Regions from separate parts of the Homo sapiens genome. Here region 1 is linked to region 2. The links come from fine-mapping of genetic effects on gene expression. A gene starts in region 2. The other region holds a variant in brackets. All regions are shown on one strand. Distances are between the middles of the regions. Region 1 has its middle 22 kb from the start of ABCB7. Region 2 holds the start of MAGEE2 (MAGE family member E2).

The links. PIP is the estimated chance that this variant, and not a neighbour inherited with it, causes the effect.
Region 1: its variant is the best candidate, but not a certain one, in a credible set for the expression of MAGEE2 in prefrontal cortex (CommonMind, PIP 0.55).

What each region holds. Positions count from the first base shown.
Region 1 is chrX:75,175,716-75,181,091 of GRCh38, forward strand. It overlaps a transcript of UPRT not described here. Among named protein-coding and RNA genes, the nearest start is that of ABCB7, 22 kb to the left of the region's middle. The variant C/T (reference allele first, on the strand shown) is at 2,615.
Region 2 is chrX:75,782,426-75,787,801 of GRCh38, forward strand. It overlaps MAGEE2 (MAGE family member E2), which reads right to left and starts at 2,829. Exons shown (of 1, transcript NM_138703.5): 1 at 562-2,829. The coding sequence starts at 2,626. The coding sequence ends at 1,055. All of the region lies in intron 3 of LOC107985664 (a long non-coding RNA gene), which reads left to right.

The sequences.
Region 1 (5,376 bases), 610 kb before region 2:
CTCATTGGACAATCTTTTTTAAAGTGTCCTAGTAAACCACACTGATAACAAGCCCTACCAGGTGGTTGGCCTGCTCCATTTTCTGACCTCTCTCAACCGTTTGTCTGAGGGCCATGACTAAGGCTGCGGCCTTTCTCTGATCTCGCTTTTCCTTTTGGGCCTGTTCTTCTTGGTCCCTATTATAGAACACTGAGTTTGCCACGTTTAATAATGCCTCTAGATTTTGTTCAGGGCCCAGGGCTTGCTTTTGGAGCTTTCTCCTGATATCTGCGGCTGATTGGGTGATAAACTTATCTTTTAGAATCAATTGACCCTCGAGTGATTCGGGTGATAGGGGAGTATATTTTCTTAAGGCCTCTCGTAGCCGCTCGAGGAAGGCAGAAGGATTTTATTCCTTTCCCTGGGTTATGGTGGATATCATTGAATAATTTATGGGCTTTTTCCTAATTCTCCTTAGTCCTTCTAGAACACAGGTCAACAGATGTTTACAACTCCAGTCCCCATGATCTGAGTAAAGGTCCTAGTGGGGGTCCATACTGGGGATTGCTTGCTGACCAGTAGGGAATTTGTCCCTTTCTTCAGCTGTCATTCTATCATTTACTTGACTGAGATACCAGGTATCTCCAAACTCTCGGGCTGCAGCTAAAGCCGCATTCTTTTAATTAAAGGCCAGGGTTTGATCTAACAGTAGCATGACGTCTCTCCAAGTGAGGTCAAAGGTTTGCCCTAGACCCTGTAGGACATCTATGTACCTATCAGGATCATCTGAAAACTTCCCCAGGTCTGCCTTGATCTACTTTAAATCAGAGAGGGAGAAGGGGACATGTACCTGGGTTGGGCCAAATTCCCCTCCCCCTACAGCTTGAAGGGGACATAACCGATAGCCTGGGGTTTTTTGTGGACCTTTGGAGATTTCTTTGCTTATTTCCTTTTGGGCAGGGGAGATTAGAGGAGGAGTATCATCAACAGGAAGGGGAGCTATAAGGAGGCTAGGATATGGGGGTAAGCTGAGGGGTCCTCCTGTGGGATGTAAATTGCAAGCTTTGCATAGTCGTGTATTCTCCCTCAGTGAAAAGAAAGCTTGGACATAAGGTATTTCACTCCATTTGCCTTCCCTCCTACAGAAAAGATCAAACTGCAGGATAGTATTGAAATTTGTACTTCTCTCAGGTGGCCATTTTTCCCCATCAGAAAGAGAATATTGGTGCCAAGCCGTAGTGCAGAAAAAAGTGAGCCACCTCTTTTTCAGGGTTTGTGGGTCAAATTGGTCCTAATGGCTTAGGATGCATTTCAAGGGTGAGCCTGTTGATGCCTGAGTGTTTCCCATCTGAAAGACAAAACCGCCCATGGTTTTGGTTTATTTTGTTTCTCTCCCTGCCCAAGAACCTGCAATGGTCCCTGGACCCTGCTGATCAGAATAGTTGCGCTCACCGACACAGCAGCAGAAACAACCCCTGCCCAAGAACCCGCAATGGTCCCTGGACCCTGCTGATCGGAATAGTTGCGCTCACTGACGCAGCAGCAGAAACAACCCCTGCCCAAGAACCCGCAATGGTCCCTGGACCCTGCTGATCGGAATAGTTGCACTTACCGACGCAGCAGCAGAAACGCTAGTTTTCCTCCCAGACCACATGGAGGACCGAGGAAGGTCGGATTTAGTGGTCCTTACCGACGCATTCTTGAAAACCTGCACCCTTGCCTGTCCTCCTAGACCACAAGGAGGACCGACCGAGAAAAATCGGATTTAGTGGCCCTTACCGACGCATTCTCAAAAACCTGTTAGAGTCCTAAGCATTCTCCTGTTAGTATTGGGACTTTACCCCTGTCCTATAAAGATGTTATGCCCTAAAAATGAAGTGGAGGGCCATACCCTGAGGGAGGGAAAGGATCTCTAGGGCTGGAGGAGTGACACCTTTTGTCCTCACTTATATAAATAGGAAGGATACAATTTCTGAGGCTCCCCATATCCTAGCTGCAGGAATAGCTTTTGTTAGGCCTGTTAGTCTGAGGAGGGATCCTAAAATTCCAGGTAGTCCCCACTACAACGGGGCTTTGGGCAAAAATTATGTCTTTCCGATTGGTGAGCCCAGGTGCCTAAAGAAGGTAACAGAGTCCTGGAGTTTATACTAGAAGTCATTCTTATAGGAGAAACTAGAAAAGCACTAGAGACAGGTAGCAATTTTTAGAGGTGGGTCTAACCTCAGAGAAGAGAGGTGAGAGGAAGTTTCTCTGGCAGGCATTAGGACCCAGAGGGCAAAGGTCAGGATAGATAGGATAGATGGGCGAGTCTCGCTTGGGCGACATGCTTGTGAGAGTTCCACTCATGGCCGCAGGGTCAACCAACATGTTGTCGGGACCCCGGAGCTGCATGGCTTTCCTCTCTGTTGACCCTCGGCTCAGCCCAGAAGTACAGGAAAAGCGGAAGCTGGTTCTAGGCAAACCAACGGTCCCAACTCCGAAGAGTCGGGGGTTGTTAGCCCTTTCCCAGAAAGCCTGACACCCGTGTCTTTAGTCCGGCGGCTGCGCTAGTCGCTTTTAACTGGCCGACAGGTGCCCAGTTTTTAGCCCCCGAATTCTAAGGAAAGATAGGACAGAATAGCAAGTGAAAGGGGTC[C/T]GATGGTACTCACTGCTTGGCGATAGGCGAAAGTCTCACCGCTCAGCGATAGGCGATGGTCTCACCGCTTGGCAATTGTCTCACCGCTTGGCGATAGGCGAAAGTCCCTTCGTGGTCACCAAAATGTGTCCGGAATTGGTGGGTTCTTGGTCTCACTGACTTCAAGAATGAAGCCGCGGACCCTCACGGTGAGTGTTACAGCTCTTAAGATGGTGAGTCTGGAGTCTGTCCTTTTTGATGTTCAGATGTGTTCGGAGTTTCTTCTTTCTGGTGGGTTCGTGGTCTCACTGGCTCAGGAGTGAAGCTGCAGACCTTCATGGTGAGTGTTACAGCTCTTAAGGCAGCGCATTTGGAGTTGTTTGTTCCTCCCGGTGGGCTCGTGGTCTCTCTGGGCTCAGGAGTGAAGCTGCAGATCTTTGCGGTGAGTGTTACAGCTCATAAAAGCAGCGTGGACCTAAAGAGTGAGCAGTAGCAAGATTTATTGTAAAGAGTGAAAGAACAAAGCTTCCACAGTGTGGAAGGGGACCTGAGTGGGTTGCCACTGCTGGCTAGCGCAGCCTGCTTTTATTCTCTTATCTGGCCTCACCTACATCCTGCTGATTGGTAGAGCCAAGTGGCCTGTTTTGACAGGGCGCTGATTGGTGCGTTTACAATCCCTGAGCTAGATAAAAAGGTTCTCCACATCCTTTTCAGATTAGTTAGATACAGAGTTTCGACACACAGGTTCTCTAAGGCCCTACTAGAGCAGCTAGACACCAGAGTGTCGATTGGTGCATTCATAAACCTTGAGCTAAACACAGGGTGCTGATTGGTGTGTTTACAAACCTTGAGCTAGACATAAAGGTTTTCCAAGGCCCCACCAGAGCAGCTAGACACAGAGTGTCGATTGGTGCACTCACAAACCTTGAGCTAAACACAGGGTGCTGATTGGTGTATTTACAATCCCTGAGCTGTACATAAAGACTCTCCACATCCTTACCAGAGCAGCTAGATACAGAGTGTCAATTGGTGCACTCACAAACCTTGAGCTAGACACAGGGTGCTGATTGGTGTGTTTACAATCCTTGAGCTAGATATAAAGACTCTCCACGTCCCCACCAGACTCAGGAGCCTAGCTGGCTTCACCTAGTGGATCCTACACCAGGGCTGCAGGAGCTGCCTGCCAGTCTCGCGCCATGCGCTCGCACTCCTCAGCCCTTCCTTGGGTGGTCGATGGGACTGGGTGCCATGGAGCAGGGGGTGGTGCTCGTCGGGGAGGCTCGGGCCGCACAGGAGCCCATGGAGTGGGTGGGAGGCTTAGGCATGGCAGACTGCAGGTCCTGAGCCCTGCCCCACGGGAAGGCAGCTAAGGCTCGGTGAGAAATTGAGCGCAGCGCTGGTGGGCTGGCACTGCTGGGGGACCCAGTACACCTTCTGCAGCCACTGGCCCGGGTGCTAAGTCCCTCATTGCCCGGGGCTGGCAGGGCTGGCTGGCTGCTCCGAGCGCGGGGCCCGCCAAGCCCACACCTACCCGGAACTCCAGCTGGCCCGCAAGCGCCGCATGCAGCCCCGGTTCCCGCTCCCGCCTCTCCCTCCACACCTCCCTGCAAGCTGAGGGAGTGGGCTCCAGCCTTGGCCAGCCTAGAAAGGGGCTCCCACAGTGCAGTGGTGGGCTGAAGGGCTCCTCAAATGCCGCCAAACTGGGAGCCCAGGCAGAGGAGGTGCCAAGAGTGAGCAAGGGCTGTGAGGACTGCCAGCACGCTGTCACCTCTCACTTTGTTGCCTCCCCACCTGTTGAATCTGCACACCAGAATCATGCCCTTCCCCGAGTTCTGGCCAGGAGACTTTGCATTCAGTTGGAATTCTTACAAAGTTCAGTTGGAGGTTTCCTTCTCCCTGTGGTCTTTTCCCAGTTCCTCTGTCAGCCCTCCCCAAGAACCTCTGTGAGACAAGTCAGAAATGGCTTCCCTGGGGACCCAGATAGCGCACAGGGCTTTTCCCACTGCTTCTTCTACTACCCCTGTGTTTTGCTCAGCTCTCTAAATTGACTCAGCTCCAGGTAAGCTCAAGTCATTCTCCCATGATCTAGACCTTCAGGTTCCCCAGTGAAGGTGTGTATTTGAGGGTAGACGATCCCTCTTTCCCACTCTCACAGCTTGGGCTCTCACAGTATTTGGGCTTTCTCCCAGATCCTGCAGCAGCGATGTACTTCTTTCAGAGGGTCTGTAGATTCTCTCCGCTTTTCTGACATATTCCTGCAGTATTTCTGGAGCAAAAGTTCATGATATGAGTCTCCACACTCTGCTCTGTCCATGTGAGCTGGAGCTGCAAGCTAGTCCTGCTTCCTGTCTTCCATCTTCCCCCTTTTCTCTGTTTTTTTTTTTTTGTTTTTTTTTTTTTTTTTTTTTTTTTGCTTGTTAATTTGTTTACATTTCTTATAGATTCTGGATATTAGACCTTTGTTGGATGCAGTTTGCAAAATTTTTTTACCATACTATACGTTGTCTGCTTACTCTGTTGATAGTTTCTTTTGGTGTGCAGAAGCTCTTTAGTTTACTTCAATCCCATTTGTCAGTTTTTGCTTTTGTCACAATTGCCTTTGACATCTTCATCATGAAGTCTTTGCCCATGCCTATGTCCTGAATGGTATTGCCTAGATTGTCTTCCAGGGTTTTTATAGTTTTGGGTTTTAAATTTATGTCTTCAATCCATCTTTTTTTGTATATGGTTTAAGAAAGGGGTTCAGTTTCAGTCTTCTGCGTATGCTAGCCAGTTATCTTAGC
Region 2 (5,376 bases):
CACTCTGAGGATATGGGCCCTTGTTACCTCTGCCACAGAGTTATTTCTCCCACTCCTCCTTTAAAGTCATTGTCTTTCTGAGCTATTTCAAATTCTTCACAGGTGCTTTACACGCTGCTTCTGTCTTCACTAGCAGTCCTTCCCTTCCTCTCCCCAACCTCAGATCTTACAATAGATGTCACTAAAGCACATCTTGTCCCCAGCCCTCCATACCACTTCATCCTTCCCACCACTATTCCTGACTACTTTCCCACTCATCCAGGCTTGACACCCCTGCACCTTCCCCAGACTATCTTAGATGCCATCACCTTCCCACTATCCTTCCCAGCACTTAAAATCGGGAGTTATTCTTGTGGACTCTCATAGAACTCTGAGCTTATGCCTATTATGCCACTTTCCATAGCATAATATAATTGCTTGTTTACTTCCATGAGCCCTCCCCCTTAAGCTCTGGAGCCCAGCTGGGTCTTCTTCACTCTTTTATTCCCAGCACACAGCACTGTTCTCAGAGCATGGCAGGTGCTTAATGCCTATAGAATAAATGAATGCACAAGCATAGGGTCTAATTCATTATGCTTTTATTGCAAATACAGGTAAATGACAGTTTTGTGTATATATATATTTGTGTATATATAGTTGTATATATGTATACGGCAGTAGACACAAAGGGAGAGCAATCACAGATCAGTGGTTTTGTGTTTGTTTTGTTGTGTGTGTGTCATTGTTATTTAACTCCTGTACCAGACCATTTTACTGATTATTTCAAAGATGTAAATATTATCAATACATTTTACAGAGCTGTCTGAACTTTTATGCTGAAACAAGACCGGGATGGCAAATGAAAAATTCCATTTATAAATATTGGTCATTAACCTAATCCAAGAGTATATTAAAAGGAAGGAAATACTACTAGAATTGGAACACAGACAGCAAGCACAATTTGTACTTCCCACACAAGCCCTACCTGGATTCTAATTTAGAGCCCCAATGCCTATTTTACCAAGGCATCTTTAACTTATGCCACTCAGCTGAAGTGATACATATTCCCTAGACTTCACGTGGGGTCAAGGAAAAACATGATAGTTGCCTCAGATTTGGCTCTGGCCTCCTCATCTTCCACAGCCTCCCTATATTGTTCTGGCCAGTTCTGTGGTCGCTTTCTGTAGAGCCTGGCCATGTACTCCAAGACTTTCATTTTGATGGTTTCATGGTGAGCTCGAGGACCCCATAGAAGCTCATATTCAACTGGATTAGAGTAGGACAGTGGCCTGCATTCCAGATAGCGCTGTCTCATAAGCTTACGGGTGATGGAATGCTTTCTCCCTACATCCACACTAAATCTTCGAAGCAAGTTCCAGACATTGGCCTCTTTGACACGGTTGCCCATCAGGAAGATCAAACCTAGGATTGGCATTACATATTCTTGAGTGGGTCTCCCCAGGCTCTCTAGCATCACTTGCTCTTCCTCTGATTCTGGTTGCTGGACAAGGAGGTAGATGTGCTCACTGGTATCAACCTCAATCAGAGACAACCCATAGAACATATCAAGAATTAGAGTAGCTCTATTGAGGATATTTGGGAACACATCCTCAAATTCTTTGCCAGTGTGAGCCAATAGCTCATCCTGATGTATAGGCAGCATCTCCTCAGTGACACTAATAGCCAACTGGACCAAATCATTTGCCTTATCATTCATAGTGTCCTCCGACCAGAACTCTAAGCCAGCAGTCAGGCTTCTTTCTTTGGTTTTGTCACCTTCCAGGGCCTTATTATATTCTTCTGGCCAGCTCCAGGGTTCTTCATCATGGGCATCTGACACAAACTTCAGGGCTTCCATCTTTGTGATTTCCCTGTGGGCTCTAGAGCCCCACAAGAACTCAAACTCAAGGGGATTAGTGCCATACACCGGCCAGTACTCCAAGAATCGCATGCACACAAAGTCAGTAGTGAGGAGGTTCCTTGTGTTCCCAAAGAGGTTGTTGATCCTCTGAGGCTTATCCCACATATCAACTTTTAGCAGCAAGTCCCAAATGGAGGCCTCTCTTGCTCGGTTCCCATTCAAGAGGATGTGGCCTAGGACTAGGGCCAGGAGACTTGCTTTTGGCATGTCCAGGGACTCCGCTATCCTATCGGTGATCTGGAAACCCCGTTTGCTGACTAAATTGTAGGTGTCAGCCTGAGGATCAATAACTCTCAGGTTCAACCCAAAGACCTGGTCCAGGTGAGCTGAGGCTCGTCTGAGGATCTCAGGGAACTGATCTGAGTACTCTCTGAGAAACTCCAGCATCTCGGACTGCTGGATAGACCCCTCCGTCTGGCTTTTCATTCTCATGAAATTCACCAAAGCAATCGACCTGTCTTCTAGAGGGTCATGGACCCTGAGCGCCCCCAAACGTCTGGACTGCTCGTCGATCAGGACCTCCAGGTCATTCGGGTCCTGAACGGCCTGGGAAGTGTTGACACACTGAGAGTTGATTGGCGCCTGAGGGCACTGGGGGGCATCAACGACTAGCATGGAGGTGGGGGACCCGGAGGCGTTAGTAGCTTGTATTTCACCTCTGCCGTCGCCGTAATCTGCAGTGATCTCTGCGCTACAGTGGCGTGCATTCTGGCTTACCAGAGACATGGTTCCAGGAGACAGGAGCGGGAACGGTGAGATCAGCGATCAGTCGGAGAGAGGACCGCAGCAGTGTTGGTGCCTCGGCACAAAGCTGAAGCCCGAGACCCTGGAGCTGGAAGGATCAAAAGTGAAATCTGGTGTGAAGAGCGATCTTTCTACACAAGTGCTGGCCAGCAACGACTGCAAGCCTCAGAGCGTTATTTTGCCGCAGCCTACGCAGGCGCAGTCAGTCTTTGCATTGTGGTGGCCACGCCCCACTCCTCGTCTTCCATGCTTTGTCTCTCATTCCTGCCCCCTCACCTCTGAAGGGCAGGCTAGGCTGGTTGAAGTGGTTGCTGCTGAATTCGAACTTGTTAGAGAAGAGAATTCGAGAAATGGAGTAACAGATATAGCAAAAGGGTCAAGGGATGAGGAGCCGTTCAGTGATGCTCCCTCCACTTGAAGTTTTTCTGTGGGGCTTAAAGCACCATGCTATCAGGCGGTAGAGGATTCAGAGAGGAGGAGGAGGAGCAGAAGGTGGAGGAAGGGAGGAGGAGGAGGAGGGCGCTAACGATTAGAATTATTTCACAGACTCGTTAAAGCTTCCATTCACTCAACAGATATTTACTGACCACATGCCACATGCCAGGCACAGTGCTGTACATCAGAATACAAACATAGTGATTTTTCCCTTTTTGTGTGGAGCTTACATTCTGGGGTATGTTCAAACAATGGTAATAATAATGAGAGATAACACTTATGGAGCACTGACTATGTGCAGGCACTCTTTCTGGTGCTTTCATTTTCCTCATACTTATTCATATAATGCTAGCTCTTAGATAGCTACTCTTAATGATCCTCATTTTACAGATGAGGAAACTGGGTCATGGAGGTAAATGTACCTGTCCAAAGTCAAGCAGCAATAAATGAAAGAGACCACTCAGGTCTGTCAGTCTCAAGCATATTACTTTCTCTCACACCATCTGATCTTTAACCTTATTTATTAAACATGACTCATAAAATAGATGAAAATAGGTGCTCTGATGGAGGGTGAATTAACATGTGATACAAACACAGAGGTAAGTATTGAATTACAGCTTAGTCTGGGGTATGTTAAATTGCGGGCAGTTTCCAATAAAGCCTCAAGAAGGAGTTGAGCTCTAAGTGATGAATAAATGGGAAGGGTTTATAGTAGTATTCTAACCTGAAGTAACAGCAACAGGAAAGGCCTAGAGGAGTGTAGGTACAAGTTTGTGTAACAGCCACTCACCACGGTGACTAGAGCCAGAGTGCACTAGAATGGGTGGTAGATGAGGATGAAGGTTGCTAGACAGTAAGGATTGGATTTTCTGTTCTTCACTTAGTATGTCAAAGCTTGTTGTGGCCCCACAGGGCAGGAATGGCAGCGTCAGAATAGAAGCTATTTATTCAGAGGGTTTATGTATGTGTATGCGTGCCAGCACACGTGTGTTTGGGGAGGCATAATCCAAACACTTTTGCCAGGAAGAGGTGAGTCAGCTGCTTTATTTTCTGAGAGCTCTACTAAAATAGTTGGGCTAAAACATAGGTGTAATCCTAGACTTCAATCATCAAGTTGAAGACTATGATGGTTGCATTTTTCAGTGCGGCATTGGAAAGGGAAAAGATTTATATAGGGTTGCCATCTGCAGTTACAATTGAAATTCTTCCTTAAATTCTTGATGGTAATGAATACTGTTACATTCCACAGAACATTACATTCAGTAATCTTATGCCCTGGAATTCCTTCAGAGGCTACTGTCTTCACATGTGGGGGTTACTCACCTCTGAAATTGTCTACATCCCAGGTGCTTTCTTCAGTACTGAAGTAGGTAACTCAGGGCCACGAATTTAGTCAAACTAGGCTAAAGAGATCAATGTTTACACAAATGAATGTGCATGTTCTAGACGGTAGAAATGTGTGGTTTGTATGCTGATCCTTTTTTCGGGGAGAGTGTTGTAGAAACCAGCACTGTCTTCCAAGCTGCTACAAAGGTATGATTAAGGCCAGACCTGATGGGGCCCTTCACCCTGGTCTTTAACCTTCCCCAGAAGGGCTCCTGTTCCTTGTCTTAGATAGGTGCTTCCCAGGGGGCAAATTGAGATAAGATCTTTAAGCTCTCTAGTTATAAACAAAAACAAACAATTTGGTACATTTTCCCCCTGAAATTCAGCTCACAGTTTGTCGCGAGTTGAACCTCCTACTACTCCCTCCATCTAATAAAGAAAAGCAACATTGAATGGCAGCATCTTATCTCTGAAATGACATCCTGATCCCATTCCACAGCATTGAAACCCTTAACAAGTTGGTCGCTACTTGGCTCTCTATCTTCATCTTTATTCCCCAGTACATCCTTCCATGATATCTTCTTCCTGGCCATATTGAGCTACACTTCTTGTCTCAGCTATTTCTATTCTACAAGTTTCTAAAAAGTTCTAGTTATTGTTAAATGAATAACAAAAAGCTGTCTCTGTGACTGTGACATATGGCATGTTTTCCGCTCTTTAAGTATAATGTAAAAAAGATGAGATCATGCTCTCCATTCTGAACTTTTTTTGATGCTTCCTGACCTCCTTTTTATACATTTCCAGAACAATTTTAATAAAGTGTTTTTTCACGTTAATATTGAAATATGGCATACACAGAGTAAACAAATCATGAATGTAGAGCTTGATAAATTATGATAAATTTAACATACCATCTGACCATGATGCCACTCAAGAAACAGACCATTACAGCATCTCAGAAGCTCCCATGA